2 separate regions of the Homo sapiens genome follow, and region 1 is linked to region 2. The links come from fine-mapping of genetic effects on gene expression. A gene starts in region 2. The other region holds a variant in brackets. All regions are shown on one strand. Distances are between the middles of the regions. Region 1 overlaps VAV3 (vav guanine nucleotide exchange factor 3). Region 2 holds the start of VAV3 (vav guanine nucleotide exchange factor 3).

Region 1 (5,000 bases), 130 kb before region 2:
ATATAGACTCACTGTGAACAAGCAGGTGCCTGGAGAGTCAGCAAATGCATCGGCAGAGCAGTTACAATGATAAGAACAGGAAGAACCTTCGAAAATGTTTGGAATTCGTGGACCGGGTCTTTAACAGTCTGAACAATGACCTGCGAGTCTCACAGCAATCCAAAAGGCAGTCCCACTGACTGCCTTCTATTTCTTCATGGCAGCATTTTCAAAATCATCATTTTCATTTCTATCTGAGTCTTTTATAAAATAATTTAAAACACAAACTCCAAATTACTAAAGCTTATTTTTTAATTTATGAACTCTTCCAACTGTCTAATATCCAGGATGTAGTATAATAGGTGTCTTTAACACCTCGGTAGAAATGGCTCCCCTTGTGTCTACCTTGCAATTAATTTATGTTTTCCAAAGTGTTGATGCTTCAATATTCATATTTAAGCTATGGAAATTTTAAAAACAGTAACGCTGTAGAAAATGTAAGCCATTGATTACATTGTACAAAATGTAAACTGCTGAATCATAAGTTAGGAAGAGCAAATAACATACACACATTGTTAATTGAATGCATTCATGCTAGAAAAAGGTCTATGATTCAAAGAACCATACTATTCTATTTTGTGTGCTTGGAATTTTCACTATCAAAAGTTTTAAAAAGTTTGATATAACAGTGAAAATCTAATGAGAAATACATGATTTTTTTCGCAACTAGAAAATCATAGCAAAAAATCATAAAGATAAAATAATTATGAAGATCAAGCATTAACATTTACATTAAGCTTAGCGAGGAAGGCATGTCAAAAGCTGAGGCAAGTCAAAAACTAGGCCTCTTGTGCCAGTTAGACAAGTAGTGAATGTAAAGGAAAAGTTATTGAAGGAAATTAAAGCTGCTACTCCAGTAAATACACAAATGATAAGAAAGTGAAACAGCTTTATTACTGACACAGTGAAAGTTTTCGTGGTCTGGATAGATCAGATCAGCCACAACATTCCCTTAAGCCAAAACATAACTCAAGGCCCTAACTCTCTTCCATTCTGTGAAGGCTGAGAAAGGTGAGGAAACTGTAGAAGAAAAGTTTGAAGCTAACAGAGGTTGGTTCATAAGGTTTTAAGAAAGAAGTCATCTTCATAACATAATTTTAAAATGATGTTAGACCAATCCTTTTTAAAGAAAATATTATCACGTATTTGTTCAAATCTCTCTTCTATACTTTTTCACTTATAACTGAGACTAACAAAATTTTAGAAATTTTTTTTTCTAATTTTTACTTATGTATGTCTATACTTACCTACAACATTCTAGGTTTATCTTTTCCAAAAGTTCATACTCTTTTTCAAGGGATGAGTTCTGAATATTCAGGAATCAATTATACAGTGTGTTTATGACGTGTGGTCAGTGCCTATTTCACTCCCTGTAACCCCACCAAGCAATAGTGAAATGTTCTTGTTATTGTGAAGCTAGCAAAGGTCTAGGGAGTCACTTGGATGACAAGGGTGGCTTCAAAAATGGTGCTAAAATTATTACATGAATCGTAATTAATAATTCCATTCAAGTTCTTCCTTGACTACTACAAGTAATCAAGCACTAGCCATGGCAATGCTTACTCGCATGCAATTTTGTTCACAGTGTCCACTCCTTAGGTTCATTGCTCACATGAGACAGTATCAGATCTCAATAAACCATAACATACTTTTAGTTCTTTTTCAAAAGTAAAACACTTTCACTCACTTTAAGATATTTAGAAACTATAGAGAACTGTAAAGCAGAACCAGGTGTTTTAACTACAGTCAACAATTTGCTGTAAATAATTCTTGTTTTCTCATTATGCAATTTTGTGTGGCCATATATAAACCCATTTTACATTTAAAAATTGCACCCTTATGGACACACACAGAAGAAACATCTCTTAAAGGGAAATAAATGCATGATACACCCGTAAATTATTCCAAAACCACATATACCTGTTCTGAATGTCTTTAGTACCCAATGTCTCTGCTGTTGTCAAGTCATAAATTAGCCCCCTTCAGGATTAGCTCTCATAACTCTTAAACCACTGGGCCCCATGCAGTGCTCTAAGGCAGGAATTTTAAAAATGTTCCATTGCATAAAATCAGTAAGGACACAGGAAAATAACTACAGGAAA[T/C]TGGAATATTCAATTGACAATCTGGAGTACTGTCAATTAGATCAAGTTATTTGATAACTCTACACAATAGCAGAATACGCATTCTGATCAAGCTCACATGGAATAGTCATCATGACAGACCACATTCCAGGCCACAAAACATACCTTAATGGGAGGAATGGGGACAAGATGGCCAACTAGATGCAGCCAGGAAGCCCCTCTCCCACCAAGAGAGACCAAAATATTGAGTAAACCAACATACTTTGAACAGATCTTTGGAGAGAAAGCAATGAGAGTCAATAGAGAGGCAATGCAAACACCAGGGCTGATGAGGAAGGAAGCTGGGAACTCTGCATGGGGTTGCTGAATGCCAGGACTAGTTCCTGGCCTTGAACAGCTCCTAAGGAAGAAGTGAGTGAAGTGACTGTGGGACAACCTACTCTCACCATGGACCTCTGGGATCCTAGCTACAGGAGATCCCATGACCCCCACAGGCTTCTGAACTGACAGGGGCATCTGTCCAGAGAGTAGAAAGAGACAGAGCTCCAGCCTGCATGGAACCCAGGGGTTTTACACATAGGGCAGCTACAGCAAAATGCTCTAATAAGCACCCATCATTCAAGGCTCTCCATCTTCCTCCAAGTAGCTGTAACCCCTGCTGACTGCTAGGCCAGGAGAGAGTAGGGCTATATTTTCTGCAGGACTGGGGCACATCTGTACTGCATGCTCCCCTGTCCACCAGCCGCTATCAAGGCCCCTGCCTGGCTGCTCCCACAAGAGCATGCACACCGCACAGGTTCCATTACCCAGCCTCAGTGCCTTGCCATGGCCCCACATGAGTGCTTTCCTGGAGGCCTAGGAGCACTATGGCTACCCTAGCACAGCTGGTGCCAAGCAGCTAAAGGACAAAGCCTCAGGCTTGTGGCAACCCCCCAGGTTAGAGCAGATGGCTCAGGAGTGACAAGCTGAGATCTATGGCTGGTCCTCAAGCAGGGAAAGAGCACCCACTCTGAACACTGAGAAGAGTGAGATGTGCGGTTTGTGGGCCAGTGTGAGAGCTGGGCATGCCTCCCTCTGCGGGGCTGGTCTGGGAACAGTGTGGTCTATCTGCTAGCTGCAGCCTCTGCCCAATGTAGCCTCATGGCCTAGAACACTTAACAGCCCAATGATCTGGGCAAAGAAAGTTTGGGAAAAAACTAGCAGGTAGGGACAGATTCTACAGTAGCCACCAGAAGGAGATCAGTCAATGGAGAGCAAGCTGGAGGTCCCCACAGCTGTCTGCAGGGCAAAAAACCCCGGCCCATAGGCACCATACCATCTGCACAGCCACAGCATCACTGCTCTGCCCAAAGATCCCCCACCCTTGACCTCTTACATCAACAGACCACCTATGGACATACTCCACAACCCATTCTGACTGTGCCAAGCACAGAGGACCAGCAGACCTCCGGAATTCTGCAGGTTTCTGGCAATCTAACCTTCAGCTCAGGCTGCCCCTAAGGGAAGGGGAAGCACAGCCCATTAGGACATTCCTTAGGGCTAGGGAAACACAGGCATGGTGCCTAAATATATATACACCTAACACTGGAGCATCCAGATTCATAAAACAAGTTTTTAGAGACCCACGAAAAGACAGGCACAAAATAATAGTGAAAGATGTCAACACTCCACTGACAGCATTAGACAGATCATCGAGGCAGAAACCTAACAAAGAAATTATGGACTTAAACTTAACACTTGACAAATTGGACCTAATAGACATTGACAGAATACTCAACCCAACAATCACAGAATATACAATCTTCTCATCTACACACAAAACATAATCTAAGATTGACCATATGTTTAGCCATAAAGCAAGTCTCAATAAATTCAAACAACTTACTCCTGAATGATTTTAAGGTAAACAACAAAATGAAGGTGGAAATCAAAAAATCTTTGAAATTAATGAAACAGAATTACAACATACCAAAATACTTGGGATATAATGAGAGTAGTTTTAAGAGGAAAGTTTATAGCACTAAATGCCTACATCAAAAAGTTTAAAAGTTCTCAAATTAACAATCTAACACTGCACCTACAGGAACTGGAAAAACAAGAACAAAACAAGCTCAAAACTAGCAGAAGAAAAGAAATAAAATCAGCGAAGAACTAAATGAAACTGAGATGCAAATACACATCTAAAAAGTCAACAAAAACAAAAGTTGGTTCTTTGAAAGAATAAATAAGATTGTTAGACCACTGTCTAGATGAACAAAAACAGAAAAGATACAGATAAGCATGATCAAAAATGGCAGATGACATTACCACTGATCCTACCAAAACATAAAAGAACCTCAGACTATTATGAATACCTCTATGCATACAAATTAGAAAAGCTAGAGGAAATATATAAACTCCTAGAATAACACAACCTCCAAGATTGAACCAGAAAGAAATTGAAAACCTGAACAGATCAGTAACACATTCTGAAATTGAATCAGTAATAAGAAACCTACCAACAAAAAAAAACAGGTGGATTCACAGCCAAATTCTTCCTGATGTACAAAGAAAAACTGGTACCAGTCCTGCTGAAGCTGTTCCCAAAAAATCAAAGAGGAAGGACTCCTCCCTAACTGACTCTACAAAGCCAGCATCATCCTAATACCAAAACCTGGCAGAGAAACAATGGGCAAAAAAAAACAAAACGAAACAAAACTTCAAGCTGATATCCCTGATGAATATAGATGCAGAAATCCTTAACAAAATACTAGCAAACCAACTCTAGAAGCACATCAAAAAGTTAGTTTACCATGATGAAGGAGGCCTTATTCCTGGGATGCAATGTTGGTTCAACATATGCAAATCAATAAATGTGATTCACCACATAAATAGAACTAA
Region 2 (5,462 bases):
TTGAGGGAAGCACCCTCTCATAGGACATTACAGGAGAAACTGTACTTAATTTGGAACCAGAAACCTCAAGGTTGAACAGACTTAAGAACTCAAAAGTGCAACGGCACAAAGAAGGTCATTAGCTGTCCTACTTACCTTATTATAACCCAGTGATTTACCATCTGATAGCATAGTGTAATAATTCCTTTAGGGCAAGTATCCTGGTGTGCTCATTTTGCTACCCCCACTAGGGAACAGAACTCTTAGAGCATTGTATGTGCTCAATTTTCATTAATGATGCTTATAATGACAATCTTTGGTCATCAGAAAGATTAAATTACATCTAACATAAGAGGAGAAGAGTGAAACACATTCAAAACGATTCTCATCCATTGTTAGCATTCAAATAAAGGCTTCGAGGTTTAAAAAGGTCTTCAGCTGTCCAGAAAACGTGATTATTGAGAGCAACTGCTGAGAGTTCCAGGAAACAAGTTCCAGGAAATGTGCACAGTACTGTACTCCCTACTGGTGGGCCAAGGCATCCTGACCCACGCTGCCTCCTGAGGCTACAGGCAAAGTGGAAAATGGGGATGTGTGAGAGTAGCTAACTGCAGCTCCCACCATAATAGAAAAGTCTGCCAAACCCCTCAAAGGAATTTCCAGAGTTGAGACAACTCTGAAGGGGTACCGAGAGGTAGCAATCACCATGCATGTTTATGGGGGTATAAAATAATTTACCTCACTTTTAAATACGTATGGCTCTCCCCACTTCCATGCCTGTTCTTTCTTAGGGACTGCCCACCAGCAGGTTGAAGGCAAACAGGCAAGGAATGCAGAATCTGAAGTGCAGGGGACCCTGATGAAACACTGACACCAAGAATCACAGATGACTGTGTGTGCTCTAACTTTAAATACATACTTATTAAATCATATAAAGTCCGTTCCTTCTTAAAAGGCGCTGCTCTGGTTGCTAAGTAGCTGAGGCTCTGCGTCATAGAGGATTAGTGCTGAAATGTGTCAGGGAGAGGGCTCTGTCCTCTCCCTTTTAAGTTGAAAGCAGTTTGGTTTTTTGTTTTGTTTTAACATTCTGAAAGAGAAAGAGGCTCTGAACCGAGTTTAACATCCTTCTGTACAAAAATTTTCCGACAGGACAAATAAACTACTCTTCCACTGAACTGTGACTTTTGAGCTGACTCTAGGGTGCACCCAACCTTCCAGAGGTGTCTGGCTTAACCCTCAAAGAGGCAGCTCCAGCCCCAGGAGCCGACCGGCACCACAGCACCTGAGCAGGGCACTGCAGGAAGGAAAGCGGAATCTCTAGTGAAACTTCTCATTTCCTGTCGCTGCTGAGAGAGGCTGGACTCGCTCCTTCTCACATGGCTTAGGAAGAGCTGTAAACGGGAGCTTGCCGGCTGGCCACCAGCTCAGGGGCCCTGGGGGCGGCCTCCGGGTTCTGCTCCCTGTTCTTCCCTTTGACCAATGTCACTCCTGGACAGATAACGGGACCAAACGCCCTTCACTTCCTCGAGTCCTCATGTATGTCATGGTTCCTCTTTTAGGAAAACATGAGTACAAGACGCAAAGCAAAAGAAGAGACTAAAGGCAAATTACCCCATCACCTCGTTTCGTCCCTCCCCTTCGTTATTATAGAAGAGCTTGATCAAATTCCCTTTGTCGCGCCACACACACGCAGAGTAGGTGAAGGGCACCCTAAGACAACTTATTTCTTTCCCGCCTCACAGAAAGCCTTTACGAAATCCTCACACCATCTCCGGACGCAAAGCTTTCGCATTCAGCTTGAGGAGCTAAACCATTTCAAGCCAAGGTAGGAAACGCCAAAGTGGTGCCGAAGTGGTCCCAAAGCAGAAGGCTGGGAAGCAGGGCAAGCTCAGCGCACCTAGACGTTTGCATTTACACAAAGAAATTAGCCGCATGATTAATGGGAGCTGCCGGCTGGAGGCGGGGCGCCCGTGCCGGCCTCCTCACCTGGGACATCTGCGGCCTCAGGTTGATCTCCTTCAGGTTGATGGAGTGCGCCCGGAGGTTGTTAAGCAGCTGGCAGAGCAGGACTCCATCGCGGAGGGTCTGCGCAAGGTCGAACACCTGAGCCGAGTCCCAGGTCACCCGGTGGTTGGTGGGCAGCACCTTGCAATGGATGAGCCACTGCGCGCACTGCTTCCACGGCTCCATGCCCGACGGCTCCGGGACGCGGCTGGGCCGGGGCGGGCGGCAAGGATGCGGCCGCCGCCGCCGCCGCCGCGGTTCCTCCGCGCCCCGCCGACGCCAACAGCCGCCGGCCCTTTCCCCGCGCGGGATCGAGGGAGCAGGAGCCGCGGCTGACGGGTCGCGGGCGCCGCGCTAGGCTCGGCTCCGGTCCCGGCCCGGGTGCGCCGCGACCCGGCCGCCGCTGCAGCGAGTCCCGCGCGCTCTCCGTGCGCCCCGGCCGGCTCGGCGGCGGCTGCCGCGCACAGGCTTCCGACTCCAGCGCCCGGCCCGCCACTGAGCATGCCCAGCACGCCGGCCGGTCTCGCTGCGGTCCGCAAGTCCCCAGACGCGCGGGTGGGAGCGCGCCGGCGGCCGGGGCTGGGGTCTGTGGCCGAGGGCGGGGCGCGGGGGAGGGGCCGGCGGAGGGGGGCGGCGGCCAGAAAGGGGATCCCGCGCCCCCGCCTGCAGCCTTGCGGGGCTCACGCAGCCCCCGGCGTCCTGGGGTCTTCTCTCGGGGCGGCTTCCCGGCTTTGCGGGGAGTGTGGCTGAATACTGTAATACGATGGGGTCCCCCAGGACCCCCTAAACAACAAATGCTCAAAGGAGCGACGGATTAATTGGGGCACCCAGACTCCCCAGAGCAATGAAAAAAGTGCCTAGAGCATCAGTAGAGCACGGCGCTGAAAGTTTTAGAGATCGTCGCCCCCTCGCCCCTTGCAGCTCTATCCCCTCCATTCTCTATAGCTGATTCCTCAGCCTATTCCTCCTAGTTGCCCCTAGTGGTGTTTTGGCACCCTCAAAGTGAGTGAGAGTGCGTGTGTGGAGACGCCTGCGGAAACCGCCCCGATCCCTGAGCCTATTTCCTCGCGAGGTGATTTTCACTTGGAGCTGGTTTGCCCCTGCACTGTCAGGCTCGGAACTGTTTGCCGTTGCTGTTCTGGCCCTTTTGCTGACCCCACAAAAACCTGCTTGAGAAAGGCCTGTGCCACGGTGCTAGACTGCGCATGCGTCGGCGACTGGCGGCCGGGTTTGAGAGCAAAGCGCGTTAGCCCTGGGCAGCTCCTGCCGGGCTGTTCTGGGATCCTTAGTGAAAGTTGGAACTTGACCCCAGAACTTTTGCGCAGTGCACAAGCAGTGCATTCGTGTTTCTTAAGTAAATCTTTTGGAGACTCTAAACCCTACCCCTTTTACTCCCACTGCACACTGCCCCTCAAAACCACAATTAATGTTTAAATTATTTGTGGCAAGATATTGCCACAGTGAATTATTGCTGTTCGATAGGAATGTGGTCCTTCGTCACCCTTTTGAGATGCATTCACTTAAAATTAGAAAATAGGCCGGGCGCGGTGGCTCACGCCTGTAATCCCAGCACTTTGGGAGGCCGAGGCGGGCGGATCACGAGGTCAGGAGATCGAGACCATCCTGGCTAACACGGTGAAAACCCGTCTCTACTAAAAATACAAAAAATTGGCCGGGCGTGGTGGCACGCACCTGTAGTCCCAGCTGCTCGGGAGGCTGAGGTAGGAGAATCGCTTGAACCCATGAGGCGGAGGTTGCGGTGAGCTGAGATCCAGCCACTGCACTCCAGCCTGGACGACAGAGCCAGACTCTGTCTCAAAAAACAAACAAACAAACAAACAAAAAGATGGGAGTTTGGATAATTTAATTGTATTATATTTCTGTAGCCCAAATTTTTTATTACGAACCATGCTTTATAAGCAGGCCAAAATATTATTTTTAAAAGAATGATCTGTTCAGGATAGTGATTGCGTCCTTTTTCGTTTGGCTGTGACAAGGATAGCACACTGTTTACACTCAGCGCTGAACAATAAATCAGCCTGAGGATTTCCTTTCCTCACACGCATCCTTCCCTAGCAATTTCCTCTTGTGTTCAATGCGGATTCCATCAATAGCACGACATTTTCTAGGCCATAATTTTGGCAAATAAATCATACTAATCTCTACATACCTTTAGAAGCAAAATCCAACACATTTGAATCACCATTTAACACAGTCTTTCATAAAGAGAAATTAAAAAGAAATTTCATTAAACGGGTCAAAATTTAAACTAAAACTATGAATTTTTTTCAGGTAGCATCAGATCACCTTTGGATGTTGGAGAATATTTCCAAAATCCACATTATATACACTATCCCAGGACGCAAATCTGGATTTAGAGCCCGAGCTGTACTGCTTTCTAGCAACATGACCTTGGATAAATTCTCTACAGTTCAGTTTCCATAGATACGAAATAAGAAATTTTTTTTTTTTTTTGTGGGGGGTGGACGGAGTCTCGCTCTGTCGCTCAGGCTGGAGTGCAGTGGCGCGATCTCAGCTCACTGCAAGCTCCACTTCCCGGGTTCACGCCATTCTCCTACCTCAGCCTCCCAAGTAGCTAGGACTACAGGCGCCGGCCGCCACGCCCGGCTAATTTTTTTTGTATTTTTAGTACAGACAGGGTTTCACCGTGTTAGCCAGAATGGTCTAGATCTTCTGACCTCGTGATCCGCCCGCCTCGGCCTCCCAAAATGCTAGGATTACAGGCGTTAGCCGCCGTGCCTGGCCATAAGAAGTAATTTCTAACTAATAGGGTTGTTGTCAGGATCAAATGGTACAATGTCTTGCTATTCAAAATGCAGCCTGTGGACAGCAGCATCACCCTTGAACTTGTCAGCACTGTAGACGTTTGGCCTCTACTCTCATACTGAATGAACCAGAACCTGAATTTTAAGATCTCCATATCCCATGTATTTCCATCAAAAGCCAAGAAGCACTGATACAATGCATAGAATGTGTGGTGCCTGATAATTAGAGCTCAATAAATATTACCCAATAGTAGCCACTTTTCATTAACAAGTGGCAACAACGACCAAATATTCTATTTCACTTCTCTGTATATAATATATGACTTCAAAACATAATGCTTCTCAAATATAGTAAACCACAGAGTTGATAGAAAGGCAACAGGAAAATATATGGAAGGCCTAGAAGGGAAGGAGTTTAGTGGAGACACGGGATTCTTCACGTAAACAAGGAGCTAAGTGCCAATAGGTGACTCGTGAAAGACATTTAAGTGTCAGAAATTGGTGCAATAAAAATGCAATGGGCTTCTCACCTGAGTTATCCTTACTAAAGGAAAAAATTACAGTCTTTTCCCTTTACAATTTTTTTTTTTTTTTTTTTGAGACAGAGTCTCACTCTGTCAGCCAGGCTGGAGTGCAGCAGATCTCGACTCACTTCAACATCCGCCTCCCGGGTTCAAGCTATTCTCCGGCCTC

What was found. PIP is the estimated chance that this variant, and not a neighbour inherited with it, causes the effect. A credible set is the group of variants that fine-mapping cannot tell apart.
Region 1: its variant is the best candidate, but not a certain one, in a credible set for the expression of VAV3 in left ventricle (GTEx, PIP 0.73).

What each region holds. Positions count from the first base shown.
Region 1 is chr1:107,832,310-107,837,309 of GRCh38, forward strand. All of the region lies in intron 2 of VAV3 (vav guanine nucleotide exchange factor 3), which reads right to left. Among named protein-coding and RNA genes, the nearest start is that of MIR7852, 62 kb to the right of the region's middle. The variant T/C (reference allele first, on the strand shown) is at 2,142.
Region 2 is chr1:107,962,701-107,968,162 of GRCh38, forward strand. It overlaps VAV3 (vav guanine nucleotide exchange factor 3), which reads right to left and starts at 2,480. Exons shown (of 27, transcript NM_006113.5): 1 at 1,966-2,480. The coding sequence starts at 2,169. It overlaps VAV3-AS1 (VAV3 antisense RNA 1), which reads left to right and starts at 1,743. Exons shown (of 3, transcript NR_046653.1): 1 at 1,743-1,804. RefSeq lists enhancers at 1,491-1,620, 2,967-3,261, 3,197-3,266.